Linked DNA regions of Homo sapiens: region 2 is linked to region 1. A link means that fine-mapping ties the variant in region 1 to the expression of a gene that starts in the linked region. Tissue or cell type: testis. Region 1 holds a variant in brackets; the other region holds the start of a gene. All regions are shown on one strand. Distances are from middle to middle.

Region 1 (2,750 bases):
TGGCACAATCTCGGCTCACTGCAGCCTCGACCTTCCGGGCTCAAAGGATCCTCCCACCTCAGCTTTCCAAGTAGCTGAGACCACGGGCATGTACCACCACGCCCAGCTAATTTTGTAGTTATTTTCTAGAGATGGAGACTCATTATGGTGCCCAGGCTGGTTCAAACTCCTGGGCTCACGCAATCCTCCTGCCTTGGCCTCATAACATGTTGGGATTTCAGGCATGAGCCACACTGTGCCTGGCTGACACCATCAGATTCTACCGTGAATGATCTAGAGCTTGGGGGTTGAGATGACGGAAACAACCTTGAAATGGTTTAGGCAAAAGGAGGAACTTAGAAATAAGAGTCTGTTGACAGATGAGTGGGTCAACACGGCACGCTCCATCTGTGCAATGAAACACGCCTGAGCCGTGAGAAGGAGTGAGGCTCTGACACAGGCCACAGCGTGGATGCACCTTGAGGACATGTGCTCAAGGCCAGGCGCAGCGGTTCACACCTGTAATCCCAGCACTTTGAGAGGCTGAAGCAGGTGGCTTGCTTGAGCCTGGGAGGTTGAGGCTGCAGTGAGCTATGATTTTTGCCACTGCACTCCTATCTGGGCAACAGAGCAAGACCCCACCTCAAAAAAAAGGGAGGGGACTTACTAGCCCACGTAACCAAAGCATGCATGGAAAAGCAAGTTGCAGCTGAGATGGGCCCCAGAATTGACTGGAATGGTGTACCTGCCCTGCCACCTCTGTTCTCCCTGCCCAGCTCCTGCCACCTTTACTGCACAGGCTGGGCACCTGGCTGTCCCAGGCTCACCTCTCCTGGATTTGCCACCAAAGGGCAGCCAAGGCACCTGGTGGCTGGTCCAGAGTCGGGGAAGGACTCTGATTGGCTGAGCCAGGGTTAAGTCCCAGGGAAGGACTCTGATTGGGTGGTCCCGAGTTAAGTCCCAGGGAATAACTCTGATTGGCTGATCCAGGGTTAGTTTCCAGGGCAAGGCCAATTAGTGGGTCTTGAAAAGCAAAGGACTAGAGTCCTCCTTAGAACTCAACACTGAGAGTCGAGGACTCTAATTGGCTCAACTTGGGTAGGGAAGAACGTAGCCAATCAATAGTGGCCAAGGGCTTTGAATCCTGCCTCTCCTACTTGGGGGACCTGAGAGCCATCAGCCAAGCATAGGAGTCTGCTTCCCCTGCTCTCCCCTTTGCTCTTCAGGAGGAGAAGGTGGAGGAGGGCCCCAGCGAGGAGATTTTCACCATGGAGCCCTTGCCTCATGTACACCGGGAGTCTCGTGCCCGCCGTTCCAGCTATGCTTTCTCCCACCGTGAGGGATATGCAAACCTCATCACTCAGGGCACAATTCTGCGGAGGGGACCAGGGGTCAGCAGTGACATAGCATCTGAATCCCTAGACCCATCTGATGAAGAGGCAGCTTCGAGCCCAAAAGAGTCACAGTGACACCTCAGGAAGATGTCCTTCCTGGGGAAGAAGAAGCACCAGCCACAGGGGCAGGTGTCCTCCCAGGAAGTACAGCTCCCCCCTACACCTAGCTCATCATTTTCTATGGATAGACAATCCGCTCTTCATCCAGAAAACCAACCTGCCCTCCCCAAATATGTGCTCACCAGCAGCAACAGGCTATCTGAGTCTTTCCAAGAGCAATTGCCAAGGGCACAGGAGAGGTCA[T/C]TGTCACCCAAGCAGAGGCCACCTTCTCCTGAGAAGTTGCTGTTGACCAAGGAGAGGTCACATTCTTTTCAGGAGAAATCACTGTTGCACAGAGAAAGCCAGCTGTCGTCATTTGAGAGCCAGCCACAGCCTCTGGGGAGCCAGTCATTTCTTTCAGGCCAGCTGACGTTGGAGAGCCAGCCAGACTCCTCGGAGGAGAAGTCAGCATTTTTGAAGCCCTCCACACCGTTCCGGAAGAGCTGGCAAAAGGAGCCTCACACCCCCAAGGAGGGGACGGTGCCACTTCCAGACAAGACCCACAAATCTCAGGTGGAGACTCTGCCACCAAGTCTGGAAGAATCGTCCACGTCCACGAGCGAGCAGCCTATGGAGGTGGAGCTGTGGCCCGCGGAGAAGCAGTCATCATCATCCATGGAGTGGCTGCTGGTGCCCGGGGAGGAGCAGCTATCCTTGCCCCCAGAGGAGCAGTCATTGCCCTCTGCGGAGGGGACCAGGGTTCAGCAGTGACGTAGCATCTGAATCCCTAGACCCATCTGATGAAGAGGCATCTTCGAGCCCAAAGGAGTCACGCTGGCATATCAGGAAGATGTCCTTCCTGGGAAGAAGAAGCTCCAGCCAGTTCTGCTGCAAGTCAACCAGCATGCAGGGGGCCTTCCTCTAAAGACAAGGACTCCACATGCTTTTCTTTTTCTAATAAACCAGGGTCCATCTGACCCCAGCGCTAATTCAGGCTCCCTCTTTCCCTACACTTTTTTTGTGATGGAATATTCCTTCCCGGTTTTTAAAATCAAAACACTGACCTCTAGTGGTCCAGCCGGGTATTTGCAGGGAAAACTTTCCTTCTTCATGCTGGGGTAAGATAATGTGGGTAAAGCTTCATTGCTCTCAAAAGTTGCTTATTAAAAGCTGTGGCTCCCCCGCTGCCTGACAGCTGGCCCCTCCCAAGAAAGTTTATAAATTCCAGTTCTTGTACCATCTAGCTTCTTCCTCTATCGGGAAGCCCTGGTTTCTCCCATTCAAATACACCTTCATTCACTGGGGCCTCCGTTCACTTTAGACTCCAGAAAGCAATGA
Region 2 (2,750 bases), 29 kb after region 1:
GACACAGCTCCCCCCAACAGGCGCGCGCTCACACACACACACGCACACACACAATGAGCTTCCCTGAGGGCTGCTTGGGGAGAGGCTCGGAGCCTCCCAGCAGTCTAACAAGGACTAGAGAACCCCTACGCGCTCCCGAAAGGGGCAGAAGCGGCGACCGGGGGGCGGGGAGGCGGCACAATCCCTTTCTCCCTTTTGGCAACGGTACAAACGGGCAGCGGCGCGGATCGCGGTCTAGCTTCCTGATAGGGGGTCCCGGGCTGCCGGGGCGCACGGGCGGGGCTTGGGGCGCTGGCCCCGGGCATCGGCCGCCGCCCCGCTAGGTGCTCGGGAGTCCAGAGCCGGCGCCCCCAGGGTCTGGCCCTGCGCGCCACGCTCCTACCTGCCAAGCGCAGCGCCGACATGCGCTGGAACTCTGGCTCCTGCAGCCACTTCCACATCCTGCGGAAGGTCTCGCGGCCGGATTTGAGCTTGCTCCACGGCTTGGGGTTGCGCAGCAGGTCGGAGAGCGTGCCCTGAGAGCGACACAGGATCCGCTGCGCGAAGATTGCCTGCGGGATGCTGTAGCGCTTCAGCTCCGCCGTGATGCGCTGCGCCACCTCCTTGGTGTTGATCTCCTCGGCCGCTGCGCCCGCGCTGGGGCCGCCGCCGCTCCCGCCGGGGCCGCCGCCTCCCCCGTGCGGCCCGTGCGCCCCGGCCGCCGCCAGCCCGCCCAGCGGCGCCAGCAGCCCCGCGGCGCTCCCGCTGCCCGCTCCGCCGCTGCCTGTGCCGCCGCCGCCTCCGGGCAGCCCGCGGGCCAGTGCGTCCTCCGCGCGTCCCAGCAGCGCGGCGTGCGGCTCGAAGGCGGCGGGCGGCAGCAGCTTGTCCCCAGCCAGGTGGCCTGGCGGGCCGTAGGCGGCCAGCGGCGGGGGTGGTGGCGGCGGCGGGGGCTGCGGGGCGCCGTGCAGCGCGGGCGGCAGCGCGTTGGGCAGCGGCGACAGCGGCGACCCCATGGCGGGCAGCTCCTTGCCGTAGGGTCCGTAGAGGTGGCCCACGGAGGCGAGCGCCGCCCGCTCGTCGCGCATGAGGGTGAAGCTGCCGCTCACGCTGGCCGCCAGACGCTGCGGCGGGGGTGGCGGGGGCGGCGCGGCCGCCGGGTGCGGGTGCGCGTGGGGATGGCCGCCGTGCGCCCCGGCCACGGCCGCGGCCGCCGCGTGCTGGTGGAACTTGTCGGCCACGGCCGCGAGCGGCGGCAGGTGCTGCAGGGGCGTGAGCGTCGTGTAGGTGCCGCCCAGGCCCGGCGCCTCGCAGGCCATGCCCATTGCCGGGTGCAGCGGGCCCGCCAGTTCCCCGCGGAAGTCCGCGCCGCCGCCCGCGCTGCCCGCGCCGCCCGCGCCCCCGGCGCCCCCACCGCCGCCGCCGCCGCCGCCGTCCAGCAGGCTCGCCATGCCGGCCACCAGGCCCGGGCGCCCGGGCGCCACCAGGCCGCGGTGCTGCGCCGCCGCCGAGCGCGCGTGGCCCGGGCTCAGCAGCTCGCCCGCCTGCGCGTGGGCCACGCTGTGCAGGCCCCCCAGGCTCTCCAGGCTCAGCTCCATGCTCGGCTGCCCTCCCGCCGCGCGCGCTCCTCAGCGCCGGCCCCTAGTGCTCAAGGCCGCTGCATGACTCCCGCCCGCTCCCCGGTGGCTGCGCGCGAGGCTGCCAGGCTGCGCGGCGCACGGCCCGGCCCGGCTGCGAGCGCGGCCACCAGGATGTGGCAGGGGAGCGGCCGCCGGCGCCCGGGCCCGGGTCTGACGTCAGCGCCCCCGCCCACCCGCTCCTGCCACCGCTGCCTCCCGCAGCCTCGCTCTCCGCCCGCCCCGGCCCCACTCGAGCACCAAGCAGGCCGAAGTCGGCCAGACTTGGGGCTTCGGCGTCCCTGGCCACTGCGCCCGCCCGCGCCCGCTGGGGCAGGCCGTACCCGGGGGACAGCGGGCGGGGGTCCGAGGACAGACTCTGCCCAGGTGGGGCTGGGGGCCTCGACCCAGAGTCTCCGATTTCGCGTCTCTGTGTGATTCTCTCCAGAGTCCCAGATGTGGCTTTCTGCCTGGCACCCCCAAGTCCATCTCCAGGGAGTTTCTGGGAGTGTGGCTGGACGGTCGCCTGTAATGTACGTGTCCCCCCCCCCCCCCGTTCCCTACAGACCCCCAGGAGCTAGATCCCCACTGCAAGCTCAGCTTCCCCCGACTCCCACTCACACCTACGGAGTCACAGCCCCCTTCCCACAACCTCTTTGTGGAGGAAGTGGGGGAAAAGGGAGGTCCTAAGGCTAGGTCAGGGCCTCCGTGCGCCCCAGGGGTCAGCCTCTGCCCATGTGTGGGCACCTGGGCCTCCGTTTCCCCAACTGTACAATGGGCTGCCCGGCCTCGGGGTTGCCAAAGGCCCCTTCTAATTGCAGGGCCTTTTTACAGTGCGGCCGCTGGAGGCACTGGAGCCTGGGGGTGACCACTAAGAGCCCCTGTCACCCTCCAGCCCACGGAGGCTGAGGCTGGATCCCCTGTCTTCTGAGACGTCGCTGGTGCAAACTCCTCTTTGTCCCTGGGGCTTCTCTTCAATGTGGGGGGAGGCAGGGGTCTCCTTTTTCTCAGCACCTGGAGACAGGTGAGCCCCAGGGGCCCCTGGGAACTGGGATAGATGGGGGAAGGGCTCCTATAATCAGAGAGACCCCCAGGGGACTAGATCCCGCCAGTGGGGTAAGGTCAGGGCTGCGGATCTGGAGGGGCCAGACCAGAATC

The links. PIP is the estimated chance that this variant, and not a neighbour inherited with it, causes the effect.
Region 2: ONECUT3 starts here. The variant in region 1 is fine-mapped to the expression of ONECUT3 in testis (GTEx, PIP above 0.99).

The regions. Positions count from the first base shown.
Region 1 is chr19:1,781,726-1,784,475 of GRCh38, reverse strand. ATP8B3 (ATPase phospholipid transporting 8B3) reads left to right here. Exons shown (of 29, transcript NM_138813.4): 29 at 1,206-2,401. The coding sequence ends at 1,448. Among named protein-coding and RNA genes, the nearest start is that of ATP8B3, 29 kb to the left of the region's middle. The variant T/C (reference allele first, on the strand shown) is at 1,677.
Region 2 is chr19:1,752,487-1,755,236 of GRCh38, reverse strand. ONECUT3 (one cut homeobox 3) reads right to left here and starts at 1,731. Exons shown (of 2, transcript NM_001080488.2): 1 at 383-1,731. The coding sequence starts at 1,574.